Linked DNA regions of Homo sapiens: region 2 is linked to region 1. Evidence: fine-mapped expression QTL. A gene starts in region 1. The other region holds a variant in brackets. All regions are shown on one strand. Distances are between the middles of the regions. Region 1 holds the start of PPP1R1C (protein phosphatase 1 regulatory inhibitor subunit 1C). Region 2 overlaps PDE1A (phosphodiesterase 1A).

Evidence for each region. PIP is the estimated chance that this variant, and not a neighbour inherited with it, causes the effect.
Region 2: its variant is the best candidate, but not a certain one, in a credible set for the expression of PPP1R1C in lung (GTEx, PIP 0.68).

The regions. Positions count from the first base shown.
Region 1 is chr2:181,982,497-181,988,040 of GRCh38, reverse strand. PPP1R1C (protein phosphatase 1 regulatory inhibitor subunit 1C) reads right to left here and starts at 2,188. Exons shown (of 5, transcript NM_001080545.3): 1 at 1,850-2,188; 2 at 142-202. The coding sequence starts at 1,930.
Region 2 is chr2:182,306,341-182,311,340 of GRCh38, reverse strand. All of the region lies in intron 1 of PDE1A (phosphodiesterase 1A), which reads left to right. Among named protein-coding and RNA genes, the nearest start is that of PDE1A, 120 kb to the left of the region's middle. The variant A/G (reference allele first, on the strand shown) is at 2,238.

The DNA of each region.
Region 1 (5,544 bases):
ATCCATTTTATAGATTAGCTTTCTAGAGTATTGCTAACTGTGAAATCCTAAATTGAAACTTTTCAGTACGACATGTACTTTGATGTTCTTTAAACAATTCCATTCTGTTCCATCAGTGTGAAACACATCATGCTTCTTTACCTGGGGGGTTATGCTCATTGAGAATCACAAGTGATGCTGGTGTAGGTCTTCTTTTCCTGATCTGTGAACGACAAAAGCCCAGCTAATATCAGTGAGTATTAGACACTGCTCCAGGTTACTCTGCAGCTTGCAAAGCTGTCTCACCCTCATCTTTTCCCCACATGCAAAAGCAAATTTCTGGAGGACACATGGAAGGTGCTCACTAATTTTATTTTGAAATAATAGAAAGCCACAGAATTGAACTGTCTGATAGAAGTATCACCCTCTTTGACCAAAAAGCTACATTTCCACGGAAAAGAAATAATTATATACAACTGAATGATACAACAGAAAATTAATTTACAATGAAGGTACAGGGTTGACCTGATAATGTTAGTGGCTTGCTTGGAGCCTCATAACATTGGTGGTGCTTTCAAGATTCATTACCCTTATTTTTAAACAGGATAAGGAAGAGCTTGGAAACCTATTTCTAGCAGGTACCAGAGTTAAATCAACAGCATAAGCTTTGAATTTCAATTAATTTTGTTAACTTTTTTATTTTCTAGTATAATATTTAGAACAAATAAACAAATGAAGAATAAATATGGATCTTATGAGAATATGCAACTTATTACAAACTCTAAAGTTTTTTTTTTTCATTTTAAGAGTTACAGGAGCATAGTATTGTCAGAATCCCTTGAATATAATATCCTTTATTTGTTTATTATATTCATTTATGGGTAAATACCCAAAGTAAGTGTCAGTAGGATAGATAATAAAATTTATCAATGACATCCTGTCCAAGATAGAAGCAACATCCCATTCAGCATGGATAGACACATGTTCAAGGATACATTTATCTGGCCTGAGTCTAGGTGCATCTACCTCAGATTTCAAAACATCCTGAAACACTATGAGTCACGGATTAAATAATTATTTTTAAGACTTTATATCAAATACTTGGAAAAGGATTCAAGAATAATTTAAGTTTTAAGAAATGAATGGATTAGGTTGATGTCCTCATAAATTTCTTTGCTTTTGCCTCCTCACAGTTGCAGTTCTAAGAGATGCCATTGCATCAAGAATCTAAGTAAATCTGAATATGAAAGGTGATACAGATGTAAACCAATATTAGACATGGACAAAGAATCTAGGAAATGTTAAAACACTGTTTGTAATGTCTGAACAAAACGATTTTAAAACTGTACAAAAAGCTACAAATCCTAGCTGTAATATATTATATAAACTTATAATCATTGTTTTGTGTCCACAATAATAAAACATATGAAAATAAAGTATTAGGCCTATAGTCTCAAACTATTGCAGGATTTAATGATTTTATTGCTAAATCAATCATTTTATTTTATAAAAAATGAAATAAAATGTTGCTCATTTTGATAATTTTTAAAAGTTGCTCTAAATGTTGAAACTGTTATTTTAATGAGCAAAAATGAACAGATTTATGAATCCATATCTGAATTGCTTACAGAGCCATTTTCCCCTCAGAGGTGCTAATTTTGTATCAAATGAAGTGTTACATTTTAGACAATAGTTCTCCCAATGCAATTTAAATACAAGTATGTGTAAAAACCAACTTATTTCTTGTTTACATTATCTTGAAAGTCAGAGTTAGCAAAATCAAAAGGTAAAGAACCTTTCAATTAATAACCAGAATGCATGTTCATATTACCTTATGTACAGGAATGGTTCTCCATGCAATTTCACATACCTGCTCTGCTGCTTCAGGTGCAATCTGACTCTGGAATACAGGCACGGCAAACTGTATCTTTTTGGGACTGTTGGGCTCCATGGTAATGATGATAATTAGTCAGAGATGTGAAGAGCTCAGAAAGACTAACCCTAAGTGGTGTCCGGGATGTGTTTCCTCAGACACACTCCACTAAGCCACACAGAGTGCTTCGTAATAAATAGCTGTAATTCCAGATCGAGCAAGTGAAGATGCCGAGGTTTGAGTAACCCCCTTCTTCAACATCCACGGTGATGCCTGGCTTGCCTGTTCCCCCACCAATCCCTTGGATCCTCTCAGCACAATACAGAAAGGAACAATACGCTAATTGTGTGCCTCTTCACTAATACACATGCCAAGCATTCACTCAGCAGCTAATTGAAAATGCAATGCTAGCCTTGAAGGACCCACTGCCCTGGGATTTGAAAGAAAGGCTCTATCCACTGTACATTACTAACCGGCTGCTCAAAAGTGCAATGTAAGCTCCCTCTGAGTATTGCAGGGATGGGCCATTCATTATTGATGAACATCAAGCAGGAAGTTTTTAGAGTTGGGGGCAGGGTTTAGGTATGGAATCATTTCTCTCAGCAACTTATAAGTCAGATACCTTTGCTATTTCACATTCAGCCACGAAACAGTTGAATGGCCATGGAGGGTAAGCCACAACCAATAATATCAGCTATGTTTATGCTATAAGATCTGGTTAGTTTAAACTCATCCTAGGAGGCAGAGCATCTGTGGTGTAGTGAGGGCAGCATTACTGCAGGGCTGAGCAGATCTTAGTTCGAGTTCCATCTTCATAATTAACAAGCTCTGTGGCCTCCAGAAAATTACTGGCTACGTCTAGGCCTCCACACTTCCATCAGAAAAATGAGGGGATTGGACTCAATGACCTTTAAAGTCCCATCCTGTTCCAACATTCTAAAATTGCAGTTCACAGTTTTCATTAGAGTGGAAAGTATTGTGCTGCTAAATTTAGCAAACAGCTTGGAAGTCACTGCTGCTTCAATGACCTCTATTTTATTTCCTGGTGGAGCCAGTTACATTCTCTGACTTGGAAGAATATGACTGGAAAACATTAGTAGAAACCTAATGGTAGTCAACATTATGGCTTGTTGTCAACAGTAGAAATGTATGTAAAGATAAGGACTTGAAAAAAGCATGAAGTGGGTAATGTTCAGAGGGTTGATATTGGCTAGTGGTCAGGGAACAGTGGGACACTAGCCTGATTGCCACATTAGTTAATGTTAAAGGGGAGGTAGTAACATAGCCAGATGGCCTTCATGCATTCGAATACTTTTATGAAGGAAGTGTGAAAATGAAACTGCTTGAGATCTCTGCTTTCTTGAGAGGCATTATGTGATGAATACTAGATTTGTAAATATGTTTTTGGATGTACTTAATATATTTAGACATCGACTATGATTCCAGGTATTTACAATTGAAGTTTTTATTTTTTAAATTTTGATTCTGTACTAGGAATCCATCTTAATGATTTAAATAGGCAACATTCTGTTGAAGGAATATAGAAAGGAATATGCATTATTGAAGTAGTTTTCTATATTCACTAGGGGAAAAAGCAAAGATGTGGATGTGAAAGCACTTTTAGTGGAGAACAGTGCTGACTAGCAAGAAATCTTGTGATGAGTTTATCCGTGTAGTGTCGAAGGGAAATTTATAAATTACATTTTATGTAACAGTTTACAAAAGTCTCCAGAAATAAAATCTAAATTGATATCATTAATGAAGTTATTTCTTTGAATATATCTTCAAATTATATAAAAGGAAAGCAAGACAAGACAGTATTTTTAGTGAGGAGTTAATACAAAACTTCACATAATGTAATAATTAAGAACATGCACTTGGCAACCTTGAGTTCAAGCTCTAGCTCTGCTACTTACCAAGTTTATCAGTTTGGGCAGTAGGAGAACTTTCTTCTTGTGAGGTTTAGATTACTCAATTCCTGAAAAGAGCTCATTACAAGGCCAGCACGGAATCACTCAATAAAAGATAGCTATTATTTTTCTTTCAGCCAGATTTTTCAAAAGGCTTCAACATACACATTTTCAACCAGAATCACTAAGAATATCTATCTACTTGGAATAATTTGATTCCACTTAGAATAATAGGTGATAAAGTGAAATTTCATATATGTGTTTGGTATAAATACCAATAAAATGGTTCTCATTAACTAATTGCCCTATTTTGAATAGGTTGATCAGAGACAATATTGTAAATGGGCTATCTAGACCCTTTAAGCTTCTTGTTTTTTATGAGGCCAACTCCTGTGTGTCCATTAAGATTCAGTTAAGTATCATTGCTTCTAGGAAGCCTTTGTAGATTTACTGTTCTCCACATTGGGTTTAAACTCACCTCTCTGTATTCTTAAAGAATGAAGCATAACTCTATTTATCATAATAACTACCTACATGTCTTTTGAATGTTTAGTATTTTGCAACTTTATTTATTCACATAGCAAATATTTGTTGAGTAGATACTATAGTCTACTCCACACCAGGCCTTTTGCTATGGCACTAGAGGAGAGATTGTGTTAAAAGGTATTTGAAGTCCTTTTAAAGCTAAATTCTTACTTGAAGAACTACTTAAAATGCAACTTAAATGTAAAATAATCTAAAAAATGTTAATATAGAGTTTGCATGGGGGGTATAATTTTCCTAAATATTAAGTGCACATTTTTTTATCCCTATTAGAGACAAGAGTAATAATTAACCCTTATATGATACCATGTGCCAGGAATTATTCTAAGTGCTTTATCTGCATTAATTTATTCCGACAACTGTTTGAGGTAGATATTATTGCTATCCTCAATTTAAAATTAGGTAATCGGGAGTCAGAGAGTTTAGATAATTTGTCCGGGGTCATCCAGCTAATATATGGCAAAGCCCAGTTTCAAACCCGGGCAATTTTGCATAGGGCTTGGGCTTTTAATCACAACAGCATCATGATGGCCACTATAATATAAGGCCAGTAGAGAAGTCAGTGGCAGTCAACAGAATCTCCGCAGTGGTTAGAGGTTCTGACCACATCAATTCCATGGTAAAAGATCTTAAGATGACGTGGTATATGAATGAAAGAGAAGCAAGTAGCATGACTAGGATACTATTAATCAAGATACTCAATCATTGCAAATTAGATATCAATATAGAAAGGAGAGCCTAAAGTTGGATGTTGTACCACCAAACTGACTGAAAAAGGAATCCTCTCCGTTGCTCTTTAAAAGTAATGGGTTCAATCATTAAAGATTAAAAAGGCCTCTAGAACAAGCAACAACTATAGTCTCTCTTCAAAGTAAGTGATACTGGAGTAAAGATGGAAAAACATTAGGAAAATAGGCCATTAGGCCTTCCTGATTTTACACTATAATATCTATCTTGCCCTACTTTGCATGATTCCTCAAGACCCTCCTACAGGCTGCCGCAGTTCACCTTACCACCAGTCTTTCTGTGGCCTCCCCTACCTCCCTGGAAGCCATCCTGCCTCCCCGCTCCCTTTTTTAACCCAAATTATATTCATTCTCTAATTCCACCTCCTTAGAAAGAGACCTTCAGATTCTCCACACAAGAAGAATCACTCAATTTGTTCCCTCTCCTGGTATTTAATTATATATAGTTTTATGTTATTCTATAATAATTTCCTATGTGTTTCTTTTGCCTCTT
Region 2 (5,000 bases), 320 kb before region 1:
AAAAAATATATTTATGCACATGAAACAGTAAGCAGAACTGATTAATAGTAGAGAAAACTGGGACATGCTGAAGTGGTCAGGAAAGTTTTTCTGGAGTAGGTTCACTTGGTTAGAGAGTTTCTATCTAAATAGATGAAAAGCAGAAGAGTGAAGTTATAATATGAGTTAGGAAAAACTTACTGCTATTCAATAATCCAACATTTTGGTGGCTTAACAGAGGAATGTTATATTTCTTGCCCACATGGCAGTTCACTTCAATATTCAGGAGGCATTCTTCCCACGGATGAGGCAGGATCTCAAACCTAGAGAGTGTAGGTCTTGGCATCCTCCACTGTGTCTTCTGTATCTGGCCTGGAGACAGGGGAAGAAAGATATGGAAGCAGAGCGCTTATGTGGCAGATCGAGTGGGAGATTTTGGAGGACAGGCATAAAAGTTGAGTATATCATTTCTGCCTGCACTCTATTGGCCAGAACATGGTCACATGGCCTTGTTTATCTGCAAAAAGCACTGGGAGATATAGTTTGAGCTGGGTTCCTAGAAGAAGGAAATGAGTTTGATGAGCACATAACAATGTCTCTGCCACAGGTATGGCAACGTGAAAGTGAGATGTGCAGCCATGGAGCAGTGAGGAGTTCAGTTTGGCTTTAGGAAGCTGGTAAAATTTGTAAGAGAATGTGGCAGAAATTAAAGGAGGACATTAAATGCCAATTATATTGTCTTTGGGGGAATAAATTTGCGTTAAATACATCTCGTTTACTAGGATAATATTTGCCTACCACTCAAAGATATACTGAGGATGGAATAGTGTAATATAGTCAAACTATCTCTCAAGGTTTATAAAGCCCTAAATGAGTATATGACACATATTGTATTAATCTGAAAAAAAAGTTGCTACAATTGCAAAGCATTTCTTTCTTTTTCAATGATTTCCCTTCAACGTTCAAAGTTTTTCCATAACTTTTGACCTTTGCTATTTCCTCCATAGCCCCCTGAAGGAATAGTTATTTCCTTTGCCTATCTTGTTCTCCTCTAAAGAGAAGATATTAATAAGTTATTAACTATAAAGGAAAGGAAACCACAGGATTTCTTAGAACACTTCTTTGGATTCCTGCTATGTTATAGCTAAGCATATAATGGTACCATCTGTGCTAATAAAAATAACAATAATGTGTGCAATGTTGAAGTGAATGATAGACTCTTATTTCAAAGATGAAATTAAGCCCTGGTTTTGTCTCTTCTTTCTGCAGATTTCATTTTTGCCTCATCTATATTTTCTGCTTATCTTTAGTATGTTCCTTGTGTCTTGCCTCAATTACTCTGATAACTCTGTCTCTTCCCTTAGGGCTGTCTGCCAACTAGTCACTTCTAAAACCAATTTGATGTTTTTTATTGCATTGGCATTCTCTCCTCTCTCTTTTTAAATTACCTTCTTGGTGCCTTTGATTCCTATTTTAACTATTTTATTGAGTTCCAAGGCAACTTTTCCACCATACTTGAGCTATTCACATCAATCACATGCAGTTTTTTCACTTCTCCATGTCTTTGTGTCAGAAACATTCTTAAAATTATGGTTTTGATATTTTCCATCAGTTGTATTTCATGCATATTTTACCTGACTGCATATATCTGAAAAATAAGGTTTTCTTCATTGATTCATTCTTCTCGCCCTTCAAACAATTGCACATGTGATTTTGACTGAAATTACTGATTTAATATTCAAATTGAATAGACTTTCTCATCTTTGATATTTTTTGATTAGAGATCATGGGTACAGTTAATGCTTTATACTCTTAGAAGGTAACTGTGACTTCATCAGTAGGAAGCTGGCCTTCTAAGTTTCTTCTGACACTTTGGGTACTTATTTGTTTTGTTTTATTTTATTTTTATTTTCTAGGTGCCACATTTTATTGGCAGAAATGGAGATGCCTTAAGTTTTGGTTAGGTGTAAGTGCAATAAAGTATATTTTTGTGTATGTGATTACCCATGATTGTAGAATTATAAGGATGGTATGCTCAATGTTATTTTCTATTTTGTCACAATTTATTGTCTCAATATAAACACAACACACTGATTTTTCTTTACTTAAGTTTACAACTTTAGAAGGAAAAAACATGGTTCTGTAAAATAAAGGGATAGTTAATAAGTCTTGTCTCCTTTCAGAATTAATGCAATTGAGTCTCTTAAATAAACAAAAATCATATCCAACTTTTTACGTAAAAGGAAAACCTGAATTTC[A/G]TGAAGCTCTTCTTAGGTTAATTTGCAAACTCTGCTTTTTCCCTGTGTGAACTTCTTTGTCACTTTTTTTTTTTTTAAAGCAAGACTAATGCTATTTCATAACCTTACTAATAGATATTTACCTGGCATTTAGGATAAGTTGTAGAAATAAGGACATAGGTAAGATAAGGGCATAAATACGATTCCAATTTAAAAAGGAAAAATAAACATAGCAGAATTCTCAGCTTGTATGTGTGCTTTGACTAAGCTGAATTTTAATCAATGTTAGAGATTTATAGGTTGCACGCTGCACTTTATAAGGAAAGAAGCATATATATTTTGCCTTCAACTAAATATAAAAAAGTATTTGGATTGTTTCAAAGGCTTTCATACTTTATAACTCACATTGTATCTGTAAAAAAGATATAAAAACATACAATTGGATGAAAGTGAAAAATTTTTACATCATTGTTGTTTAAAGTTTAAAAAACTATGCTTGACCAAATATCACATTTTATTACAATTTACTAATTTCTAGATCATTTTATTTTATTTTATCCTATAAAATATTCTGCCTGGTTAAAAATGAAGGGGGAGAAAACATGATCCACATATGGATTTACTTAATTTATAGTTGCTTATTATACCAAGATTTGCTTTATAAATTTCTCAATGACTTTAAATTACATTTCGGACTTTAAAAGAGATTTACAGCAATGTATTTTATTTGGCACTTCAATATTTAATATATTTTTAGCAATTTAAAAGTGATGATTTGCACAAACCACATCCATCTTTATTGGAGTTAAATAAAAGCAATTTCTCTTATATTGCTTACATAATTGATTTCATTATAGAATTATCCTTGAAAGAACAACCTTTTTATGTTTCCTAGTTATTATATATGTTATGTGTGGTATTTCTCCCTGAGCACTCTAAGCTGGATGTGATTTTGTTCTGATTTAGGCTATAATTGTTAAACTTGTGCAGAATAATGTTGTCAACAAGGCCTGCCATATTAAAAAGAGTAATTTCTCCAGTGGACATTATTTTTCAAATTCAATTTTCATTTAACTGTCAGTGTCTTAATGCTAACTGTTAAAAAACGATTATATTTAGTTTTCTTGAGGAAGCTCTATATAGTTTTCCATAATGATTGTACTAATTTACAGTCCTACCAGCAGTGTACAAGGGTTCTCTTTTCTCCACACCCTCACCAACAACTTGTCATCTTTCATCTCTTTTGTAATTTTAGTTTTTGTTTTTGTCTTTAGACAGTCTGTATCTGTTGTTCATGCTAGAGTTCAGTGGCATAATCATAGCTCACTGTCTCAAGCCATCCCCCCACCTCAGTTTCCCAGGTAGCTAGGACTATAAGTGTAAGCCATGATTCCCAGCAAAGCATTTTTTTTTGGTAGAGATGGGATCTTGCTATGTTGCCCAAGCTGTTTCCATGTTTTTATAGTAGCCATTCTGACAGGCTTGTGACGATATCTCATTTTGGTTTTAACTTTCATTTTCCTAATGATCCAGTGATTGTCTTACTCTGTTTTGTGCTGCTATAACAGAATATCACAGACTGAGTAATTTATAATGAACAGAAATTCATTGACTCACAGCTTTGGAGGCTCAAAAGACAAAAATCAAGAGGCTGGGATCGGTCAAGGAACCTCTTGCTGCATCATCACATGGTGGAAGGGCAAGAGAGGGTGACAGTGAAAGCACATTCCACCTTTATAAGGAACCCACTCCCACAACAAAAACACAGTCCTGTGAGAACAGCATTAATCCATTCATGAAGGCAGAGCTCTCCTGGTTTAATCACCTTTTAAAGGTCCCACCCTCTAATGCTGTTATAATGATAATTAAATTTCAAAATGACTTTGGGAGGAGACAGACATTCAAACCATAGCAGTAATGTTGAGCATTTTTTCATATATCTGTTGGTAATTTGTATGTCTTCTTTTGAGAAATATCTATTCAGGCCCCTTGCCCATGTTTTAATCAGGTTATTTGTTTTCTTGCTATTGAGTTGTTTAATTTCCTTTTATATTATACATATTAACCACTTAACAGATAATATGCTTGTAAATATTTCTCCCAGTTGGTAGGTTCTCTCTTCACTCTGCTAATTGTAGCTTTGCTGTGCAGAAACTTTTTAGTTTGATGTAATCCCGTTTATCTACTTTTGCTTTTGTTGCATGAGCTTTTGGGGTCATATCTAAAAAATCAATACCCAGACCCATGTTGTATAGTGTCACCCCTGTGTTTTCAGTGTAGTTTCACAGTTTCGGGTCATACATTTAAGTCTTTAATCCATTTTGAGTTTATTCTATAAAGAGTGAGATAAGGATCCAATGTCATTCTTTTTCTTCATGTTTGTCAATACTTTTTATTGAAGAGACTTTCTTCTTCCCATTGTATTCTTGCACTTTCATCAAAAATCAATTGACTGTAAATGTTTGAGTTCATTTCTTGGTTCTTTCTTCTATTCCATTGGCAAATGTGTCTATTTTTATGCCAGTCCCATGCTGTTTTAATTACTATAGATTTATATTATAGTTTGGAATCAGGTAGTATGGTGTCTTCAGATTTGTTCTTTTTGCTCAATATTGCCTTGCTTTTGTGTGTGTGTGTGTGTGTGTGTGGTTCCATATGAATTTTTGGATTTTTTCCTATTTCTGTGAAAAATGACATGGGGATAACAAAAAACTATATGGAGATTACTCAAAAACTAAAAATAGAATTACAATAGAATCCAGCAATTCCACTTCTGTGTATGTA